2 separate regions of the Homo sapiens genome follow, and region 1 is linked to region 2. Evidence: fine-mapped expression QTL. A gene starts in region 2. The other region holds a variant in brackets. All regions are shown on one strand. Distances are from middle to middle. Region 1 overlaps LOC107987053 (a long non-coding RNA gene). Region 2 holds the start of KLHL9 (kelch like family member 9).

Region 1 (5,385 bases), 61 kb before region 2:
ATTGAGATAATCATGTGGTTTTTGTCGTTGGTTCTGTTTATGTGATGGATTACGTTTATTGATTTGCATATGTTGAACCAGCCTTGCATCCCAGGAATGAAGCCGACTTGGTCTTGGTGGATAAGCTCTTTGATGTGTTGCTGGATTTGGTTTCCCAGTATTTTATTGAGGATTTTTGCATTGATGTTCATCAGAGATATTGACTTGACATTTCTTTTTTTTTGATGTGTCTCTGCCAGTTTTTGGTATTAGGATGATGCTGACCTCATAAAATGAGTTAGGGAGGAGCCCTTCTTTTTCTATTGTTTGGCATAGTTTCAGAAGGAATGGTACCAGCTCCTCTTTGTACCTCTGGTACAATTTGGCTGTGAATCCGTCTTGTCCTGGACTTTTTTTGTTGGTAATCTATTAATTACTGCCTCAATTTCAGAAGTTGTTATTGGTCTACTCAGGGATTCGACTTCTTTTTTTTTTCAATTTTTTTTTTATTATACTTTAAGTTCTAGGGTACATGTGCACAATGTGCAGGTTTGTTACATATGTATACATGTGCTATGTTGGTGTGCTGCACCCATTAACTCGCCATTTACATTAAGTATATCTCCTAATGCTATCCCTCCCCACTCCCCCAACCCCACAACAGGCCCCAGTATGTGATGTTCCCCTTCCTGTGTCCAAGTGTTCTCGTTGTTCAATTCCCACCTATGAGTGAGAACATGCAGAGTTTGGTTTTCTGTCCTAGCGATAGTTTGCTGAGAATGATGGTTTACAGCGTCATCCATGTCCCTACAAATGACATGAACTCCTCCTTTTTTATGACTGCATAGTATTCCATGGTGTATATATGCCACATTTTCTTAATCCAGTCTATCATTGATGGACATTTGGGTTGGCTCTAAGTCTTTGCTATTGTGAATAGTGCCACAATAAACATAAGTGTGCATGTGTCTTTGTAACAGCATGATTTATAATCCTTTGGGTATATACCCAGTAATGGGATGGCTGGTTCAAATGGTATTTCTAGCTCTGATCGCCATGCTGCCCTCCGCAATGGTTGAACTAGTTTACAGCCCCACCAACAGTATAAAAGTATTCCTATTTCTCCAAATCCTCACCAGCACCTGTTGCTTCCTGACTTTTTAATGATCGCCATTCTAACTGGTGTGAGATGGTATCTCATTTTGGTTTTGATTTGCATTTCTCTGATGGCCAGTGATGATGAGCATTTTGTCATGTGTTTGTTGGCTGCATAAATGTCTTTTTTTGAGAAGCGTCTGTTCCTATCCTTTGCCCACTTTTTGATGGGGTTGTTTGATTTTTTTCTTGTAAATTTGCTTAAGTTCTTTGTAGATTCTTGATATTAGCCCTTTGTCAGATGGGTAGATTGCAAAAATTTTCTCCCATTCTGTAGGTTGCCTGTTCAATCTGATGGTAGTTTCTTTTGCTGTGCAGAAGCTCTTTAGTTTAATTAGATCCCATTTGTCAATTTTGACTTTTGTTGCCATTGCTTTTGGTGTTGTAGTCATGAAGTCCTTGCCCATGCCTATGTCCTGTATGGTATTGCCTAGGTTTTCTTCTGGGGTTTTTATGGTTTTAGGTCTAACATTTAAGTCTTTAATTCATCTTGAATTAATTTTTGTTCTGCCCTCTCTTACCACTCCTATTCAACATAATGTTGGAAGTTCTGGCCAGGGAAATCAGGCAGGAGAAAGAAATAAAGGGTATTCAATTAGGAAAAGAGGAAGTCAAATCGTCTCTGTTTGCAGAAGACATGATTGCATATTTAGAAAACCCAAACACTTCAGCCCAAAATCTCCTTAAGCTGATAAGCAACTTAAGCAGTCTCAGGATACAAAATCAATGTGCAAAAATCACAAGCATTCCTGTACACCAGTAACAGACAGAGAGCCAAATCATGAGTGAACTCCCATTCACAATTGCTTCAAAGAGAATAAAATACCTAGGAATCCAACTTACAAGGGATGTGAAGCACCTCTTCAAGGAGAACTGCAAACCACTGCTTAATGAAATAAAAGAGGATACAAACAAATGGAAGAACATTCCATGCTCATGGGTAGGAAGAATCAATATCGTGAAAATGGCCATACTGCCCAAGGTAATTTATAGATTCAATGCCATCCCCATCAAGCTACTGATGACTTTCTTCACATAATTGGAAAAAACTACTTTAAAGTTCATATGGAACCAGAAAAGAGCCCGCATTGCCAAGCCAATCCTAAGTCAAAAGAACAAAGCTGGAGGCATCACGCTACCTGACTTCAAACTATACTTCAAGGCTACAGTAACCAAAACAGCATGGTACTGGTACCAAAATAGAGATATAGACCAATGGAACAGAACAGAGCCCTCAGAAATAATACCACACATCTACAACCATCTGATCTTTGACAAACCTGACGAAAACAAGAAATGGAGAAAGGATTCCCTGTTTAATAAATGGTGCTAGGAAAACTGGCTAGCCATATGTAGAAAGCTGAAATGGGATTCAACTTCTTCCTAGTTTAGTCTTGGGAGGGTGTGTGTGTCCAGGAATTTATCCATTTCTTCTAGATTTTCTAGTTTATTTGCACAGAGGTGTTTATAGTATTCTCTGATGGTAGTTTGTATTTCTGTGGGATCAGTGATGATATCCTCTTTATCATTTTTTATTGTGTCTATTTGATTCTTCTCTCTTTTCTTCTTTGTTAGTCTGGCCAGCGGTCTATCTATTTTGTTAATCTGTCCAAAAAACCAGCTCCTGGATTTACTGATTCTTTGAAGGGTTTTTCGTGTCTCTATCTCCTTCAGTTACACTCTGATCTTAGTTATTTGTTGTTTTCTGCTAGCATTTGAATTTGTTTGCTCCTGTTTCTCTAGTTCTTTTAATTGTGATGTTAGGGTGTCGATTTTAGATCCTTCCTGCTTTCTCCTGTGGGCATTTAGTGCTATAAATTTTCCTCTAAACACTGTTTTAGCC[G/A]TGTTTCAGAGATTCTGGTACACTGTGTCTTTGTTCTAATTGGTTTCAAAGAACTTATGTACTTCTGCCTTAATTTCATTATTTATCCAGTAGCCATTCAGGAGCAGGTTGTTCAGTTTCCATGTAGTTGTGGGGTTTTGAGTGAGTTTCTTAATCCCGAGTTCTAACTTGATTGCATTGTGGTCTGAGAGACTGTTTGTTTTGATTTCCATTCTTTTGCGTTTACTGAGGAGTGTTTTATTTCCAATTATGTGGTCAATTTTAGAATAAGTGTGACGTGATGCTGAGAAGAATGTGTATTCTGTTAATTTGGGGTGGAAAGTTCTGCAGATGTCTATTAGGTCTGCTTGGTCCAGAGCTGAGTTCAAGTCCTGAATATCCTTGTTAATTTTCTGTCTTGTTGATCTGTCTAATATTGACAGTGGGGTGTTAAATTCTCCCACTATTATTGTGTGGGAGTCTAAACCTCTTTGTAGGTCTCTAAGAACTTGCTTTATGAATCTGGGTGCTCCAGTATTGGGTGCATATATAGTTAGAATAGTTAGCTCTTCTTGTTGCATTGATCCCTTTAACATTATGTAAAGCCCTTCTTTGTCTTCTTTTTCTTTTTGATCTTTGTTGGTTTAAAGTCTGTTTTATCAGAGACCAGAATTGCAACCCCAGCTTTTTTTTTTTTTTTTTTTTTTTTTTTGCTTTCCATTTGCTTGGTAAATATTCCTCCATCCCTTTATTTTGAGTTTATGTGTCTTTGCATGTGAGATGGGTCTCCTGAATACAGCACACCGATGGGTCTTGACTCTATCCAATTTGCCAGTCTGTGTCTTTTAATTGGGGCATTTTTCCCATTTACATTTAAGGTTAATATTGTTATGTGTGCATTTGATCCTGTCATAATGATGCTAGCTGGTTATTTTGCCCATTAGTTGATGCAGTTTCTTCATAGTTTCAATGGTCTTCACAATTTGATATGTTTTTGTAGTGACTGGTACTGGTTTTTCCTTTTCATATTTAGTGCTTCCTTCAGGAGCTCTTGTAGGGCAGGCCTAGTGGTGACAAAATCTCTCAGCATTTGCTTTTCTGTAATGAATTTTATTTCTCCTTTGCTTATGAAGCTTAGATTGACTGAATATGAAATTCTGGGTTGAAAATTCTTTTAAGAATGTTGAATATTGGGCCCCACTCTTTACTGGCTTGTAGAGTTTCTGCAGAGAGATGCACTGTTGATCTGATGGGCTTCTCTTTTTGGGTAATCCGACCTTTCTCTCTGGCTGCCCTCAACATTTTTTCCTTCATTTCAGCCTTGGTGAATCTGACGATTATGTGTATTGAGTTTGCTTTTCTCAAGGAGTACCTTTGTGGTGTTCTCTGTGTTTCCTGAATTTGAATGTTGACCTGTCTTGCCAGGTTGGGGAAGTTCTCCTGGGTAATATCCTGAAGAGTGTTTCCCAACTTGGTTCCATTCTCCCCTTCACTTTTAGGTACACGAATCAAACGTACGTTTGGTCTTTTCACGTAGTCCCATATTTCTTAGAGTCTGTTCATTTCTTTTCATTCTTTTTTCTCTAATCTTGCCTTCACACTTTATTTCATTAAGTTGATCTTCAATCTCTGATATCGTTTCTTCCACTTGATTGATTTGGCTATTGATACTTGTGACCAATCTTTTTTTGTTTTCTTAAAGCGTTGAGAAAGCGATTCTTTCATCCAGTTTTCCATTTTATTTTATGAAGGAAGTTTGTCAGGTTTTACTGACAATTAACATAGTACTAATCAAAATTATAATTATTGCAACTTTATATGTTATAATTTGATATTATAAAATATTAAGTATATTAACAGCTTTTCAATGCATGAAATCAATCTGCAGACATATATATTTTCAAACGGATAAACCATGCAGGTAAAATGAAATGTGATCCACTTTTTTTTTCATGTCTAACCTTATTTCTTTCCTTTATCTTAAAGGGAAACCTCTCACAACTATTTCTTATCTATTTTGTCACAGATTTCCCTTCTTTGATTCATGCTTCCACCTACTGCAATACGGTTTATAGTGATTAATTCTACCAATGCAGCTCTCACTAAGATCTCCACTGCCATTTATTTTTCTGATGTAGTGGACAGTTTTAATCCATATTTCCCCCAAGTCTATTGATTCTTCTTCTAAATACATTTATTTTCAAGACACACATTTATCACCATTAAGTCTTTCCTTCACTAATGTACAGTTTTCCACCCTTGCTTCCTTTGTGTCTCTTATATCCCCTCTCTTTAAAGGTGGAAGGTCCTCAGAATCAATTTTAGGTTCTTTTTTCCTTTACTTTTCTTTTTCCTCTCCACATGACTGCCTCTATTTTTGGGCTTTCCATTGCCAGTTATGAACCTTCAGGCATTGTATTTCTTGAAAA
Region 2 (5,385 bases):
CCTCTCTTGCTCGCTCTAGAGAGAGATACCAAATACTGGCTTGGTGCTATACTGTTTTTTCCTAGTTAATATTTTTATTATTTCTGTCTACGTAAGAAACTTCAAATATTCTGAATGCAACCACACAATCGAGTAAGTTGACAGACATGACAAAAACTACGAAAAGAGGGAGGTAACTAGTATTAATACTTGGCAACCTTTCGTTATTTTTAGTTTAGAGCGGCCTCCCTCTGACATTTTGGAGTCAAAGATGAAAACTCAACTTTGAAGCATAATGGACATAATTACACATTTACCACAGTCATCTACAATTTTATATAACATCACAAAAAGACATCTAAACATTTTTCTACGTCTTTTTTTCATTTGTTAAAACAGCTATGTTAAATACATTTTCAGAATGCATTTGTTAGCCACTTGATAAACATACTAAAAGCCATACAAGACGAATAACATCAGTTACCTTTATATCTAATAACTGTACCAATCACTGTAAGAAGATACAACTGAAGGGGAAGTATTAGATCACCCATGACGTACTGCAAAGGTGTTACACCTTAGACCTAAGAATGATCTGAAGGTGCTGAAAGAGGTGATTCTCTAGAAGGTGACCCAGGGTTTTCTTCAGGTGGAAAAACTGTGAGTGTACAGGCTCGAATGCCACCAAGTGACTCTGGAAGATCAAAAACTTTATGCCACTCATCTTTTTCTGGGTCATATTTCTGGACAATTTCTACCATACAACGATTATTCCAAGAATATCCACCAACAACATAGATTTTATTTTCAAAGACGGCAACTCCAACATCACTTTGGCCTCTTAACATGGCGGCAATTGGGGTCCACTGGTCAAGGGTTGGTGAATAGTATTCACAGCTTAGAACATCATCATAATCACTTGTTCCTCTGAAGTGATTGCCACCAATGACATAGAGCTTATCTCCAACTGTACACATGCAATGCAGACCTCTGACTGTAGTCATTGGAGCCTTTTGCATCCATTTATCTGTATCTGGGTCAAAACACATGAGCTCATTTTGGAAAGTGTCATGGGTAATTCCTCCTGAAATATACATTAAGCCTCCATATACTGTTCCAGCATGACCATAGTGGGGTTCACTCATTTTTGCAACATAGCTCCACTCATTCATTCTTGGGTTGTAACATTCTACTGTGGCCAGTTCACCAGCTGCACTGCGCCCACCAACTGCATACAAATGTCCTTTGAGGGCACTCAAGTGAAAGAATGTGCGCTTTTCATTTAATGATGCAACCTGCATCCATTTATTATACCGAGGATCAAATCTGAAAACTGTATCAACAGCAGTTTTTCCTTTTGTATCATAATTACTCTGACCACCAACTACATAAAGAAAGTTTCCAATGACAGCAATACCATGCTGGTAACGGGGAGCATCCATTGGGGCTAAAGATCTCCATTCTTGTGCCCTTTCATCATACATCCGTAATTCTTTACTGACAACCAGCTGCTGCCTCAAAACTCCTCCTAATGTAACCAAGTGAGTGGAGTCAGATCGAATGGCAGTTCTATCTGACTGCATCACTGGCTGCATATATGGCATCATTTGGTAATTGCTAGCTTCCAAAAGCAAATTCACGCAGGTATTGTCTGTTCTCATGAAATCTACTGTCTGCACGTAATTGATGAGATCCTGTGGTGTCATCAGTGGAAATCGAATATTCTTCATTAACTTTGCAGCATAATCCATCCGAGGGTCTTCCAACCTTAGCCAGCGACAGGCTGCCTTAAAGAGTTCAAGTTCGGTACAGTGCTTAAGACTATTACTGGAAAGCACAAATGCAAGTCGTTCAAAAGGGAGTTTTAGAAACTCCCCAGTACTCAATAAAGCAGGAAAGTTCTTCAGGATGAAATTATTAACATATTTATCCACTTCTATAAGATTGTAGGTGTTAGCAATTCGTCCAACCTCAACACAGTTATCCAAAGAGACTCCTGATATAAGAAATACTTTACAGAAATCCAAAACGGGTAATATTTGTAAAAAGCTAGCAGCTTCAAGTGTGTCCTGAAGATTGTCCATATTAAGAGAAAGTTTTGCAGTATAAATAAAATCAATGATTTTCTTCAGACCAACCTTGTTCACCCCATGAAGCTTAATGCACATCAAATCTTGTTCTTTCATTCCACCTGTGAACATGGCTTTGAAATAATCACTAGCAGACGCCATCATAGCTCTGTGAACAGGGAAGATTTCATCTCCATCACCTGGTACCAGGGTCACATCACAAAGCAATCCTTCTATTCTAAGCTGATCAAAGCCTTGCAATACCACCGAACTGTGAGTATTGCTGGTAAAAAAGCGTGTGGTTCCTGCCTTACAAGGCTGCAAATGGGCAGAGACGCCCATTTCGCCGTTACCAAGGGACACTTTCATGTGAAAGCTTTCCTCTTGCACAGAGATGCAAGCCGGATAAAGAAGTTATAACCGGAATGTTTTACAGGTAACGAGGTGTCCAGAAAGAACAGAAAGCTCGTTTCCTTATCAAGGGAAGGCAGTCACTGCGGCACCCCTCGGGCCACGCCAGTCAGTCATCCACTGAAAATCACCCTGTAGCAGGACCACAAAGGGCTGTGGACCTCAAATCTGATTATTAGACAGATGATTCATCACCTGAAGGCGGTTAAATGACCTGGTTCACCTCGTCCGGCCTGCGCTGCCGCTCCTTCAGCAGTTCCGCTTCGGGCAAGGAAGAGGCGCCGCCACGTACTGTGGCTCCACGGCCCGCTCGGCGGCGGGTCCGGACACCTCAGCGAACGGCCCGCTGCGCCCTCCGCTGTACCTAGAGTGTCGCAGCGGCCACCGGCCTGTCTTTGAGCAAGGGCCGGGAACACAGGCCTGGGCCTGGGCTTGGGCCTAGAATACCGGCCTAGCCCCAACACCGAGCCGCTCCTTCCGGAAAAGCCTAGTCCCAGGATACCACGGGGTGGGAGCGGCCTTAGCGGCTACTGCGGCTGCGCGGCCTCCAGACCTCGTCAGTCAGCGGGAGGGTGGGGGTGGGGAAGGGGGAGGAAGTACCCGGGAGGCGGGAGGGCGAGGGTTGGGGAAGCGGAGCTGTGTGGGGTGGGCGCCAGCCCGGCCTCTTAGAGCTGCCTTGTATGTGGGACCAAATAGGACAGAATGTGTGCAAGCAAGTGTGTTATGCTGCACGTTTGATATAAGTTTTTCGCATATCTGAGCTCTTACGTTCCCCAAATGCATAATTTTTCAAAGCTTTACGCTTCCTAGCTTCTGTTTTTTTGAATAACAGTGAAATGCGGCATTTGTATAAATTGAGAGGAAACCTGGATGCTTAATTTTTTTTTTCCTCTACAAAACAATAATTGTTATCCCACATTATGTAGTAGATACTTCAGTTACAATTTTGGTTCATATTTTCAAATTTGTTACAATTTCAAACGCAAAATATTTGTCTTTACTAGATTGTTACTTTATTATGTAAATGATATATTCTAAATTTTTGGCTTGAAATGCCTTTGTTTTCCACAATTTTAAAAATGGCTACATAATTTTCCAATAACTATACATACTATAGTTTCCTTTGCCCATTGGTTTGTTCCTGAATGTGTACCTTCTTATCCTCCATTGTTTTATAGACTCGGTAGTAAACTTATACAATCTGGTAGCAAAATTTTAGCCCTGTTATGGATAATATTTAGTAAAATACTGATCCAAGACAATATTTCCAAAATATTATCACCAACAATGTTTGTGTCTTTCCCTTCTTCTGACTTTTCCCTTTGTGAGTATTTTATTAACTTGCATTTCTTTAATTAGTGGTAAATTTAAATTTTGACATACAAATAAATGTATACTTTGACACAATTTCTTCCATTTTCCAAATTTTGAAGTTTCTGTCTTTTAAATCCTTCTAGTTCTTTATGCATATGCAAAGTAAGAATGTAGTCATGTTTTTCTTACACTCGCCTCGTTTTTATGTAAAAGATAGCATACCATGTACACTGTTCTGCATCTTTTTTTTTCACTTCAAGATCTTCCTGAATTAGTGTAGAGGGCTTATTTATATTTTTAAACAATTCTGTTGTTGCCTTCTGAGTTGTTACATCATAAGTTATTTAACCAGTGCCCTGTTGATGGGCAGTTCATCTGTTTTGAATGTTTTCTATTGTTTCCAAGGGATGGCAGCAAAATTCAGAAGGCTTAGACTACCACTGTCCTCCACAAGGTGCTCCAGCAGATTGTCACCTTATTCAACACAAGAGGTTGGTTGGAATGAAACTGGCCTGGAGAAATTATTCACTGAATTTTTATCAGCATTGGGAAGTCCTGGAGCCCTGCTTGTTGAATGAGTTAGGGGTGGAAGGGCTCTCTCAGGCCATGACAACTCCCTAATGCTGTGAAGAGCTACTTCCAAGGAATCAGTCTCTATCTGGAAAAGAAAGAAGAGAGCCTCTGTACATGGGAAGTTGGAGCAAGAAATCATGAGATCCTTCTTTTTTTCATCAAACTTGCAAGTAAGATTAATAGCTTAGGAACAGACTTGTGTCTTCATGAAATGATTACTATAGACACTCTTCATTATATTCCCATATGTTTAGTTATTTTAAAAGACTATCTTTTCTGCCTGCATAATGAAATGATTGAATCAAATTTGTCACAATACTTGTTGGTAATGTCAAGCAACTGTATGATAAAGCATCCAGTTCTTAGGGGCATTAGCTCACCATGGATGATATTATTAATTTACCCATGTACTTAATTATTGATTCTACTACATTTATTGTATTCAGTATTTTTGCTTGTATGAAATGTTCACTTTTAACACTGTGCTAATTACATTAAAAAGTGTTCACTTTATGTATATTTTGTTTGTTTGTTTTGTTTTGTTTTGTTTTGACGGAGTCTCGCTCTGTCACCCAGGCTGGAGTACAGTGGTGCGATCTCGGCTCACTGCAACCTCCGCCTCCCAGGGTCAAGCAATTCTCCTGCCTTAGCGTCCCGAGTAGCTGGGACTACAGGTGCGCGCCACCATGCCCAGCTAATTTTTTGTATTTTTAGTAGAGATAGAGTTTCACCATGCTGGCCAGTCTGCTCTCAAACTCCTGACCTTGTGATCCGCCTGCCTCAGCCTCCCAAAGTGCTGGGATTACAGGCGTGAGCCACCATGCCTGGCCCCTCACTTTATATTTTGAAAATTATTCTCTTTATTATTTCGAGTTTTACTTTCAGATCATTTTGCATTTGTTTATTTAAAAAAAACAAACACAAGGTCTTGCTCTGTCACTAAGCTGGAGTGCAGTGGCAGGTTCATAGCTCACTACAGCCTCAAACTCCTAGCCTCAACAATCCTCCCACCTCAGCCTCCCACACTGCTGGGATTACT

Evidence for each region. PIP is the estimated chance that this variant, and not a neighbour inherited with it, causes the effect.
Region 1: its variant is fine-mapped to the expression of KLHL9 in whole blood (INTERVAL, PIP above 0.99).

What each region holds. Positions count from the first base shown.
Region 1 is chr9:21,271,871-21,277,255 of GRCh38, forward strand. The region is part of intron 2 of LOC107987053 (a long non-coding RNA gene); the gene reads left to right. Among named protein-coding and RNA genes, the nearest start is that of IFNA5, 31 kb to the right of the region's middle. The variant G/A (reference allele first, on the strand shown) is at 2,978.
Region 2 is chr9:21,332,443-21,337,827 of GRCh38, forward strand. It overlaps KLHL9 (kelch like family member 9), which reads right to left and starts at 2,962. Exons shown (of 1, transcript NM_018847.4): 1 at 1-2,962. The coding sequence starts at 2,417. The coding sequence ends at 564. LOC107987053 (a long non-coding RNA gene) reads left to right here. Exons shown (of 3, transcript XR_001746634.2): 3 at 4,179-4,859. RefSeq lists enhancers at 2,392-2,441, 2,632-2,941 and a silencer at 2,982-3,151.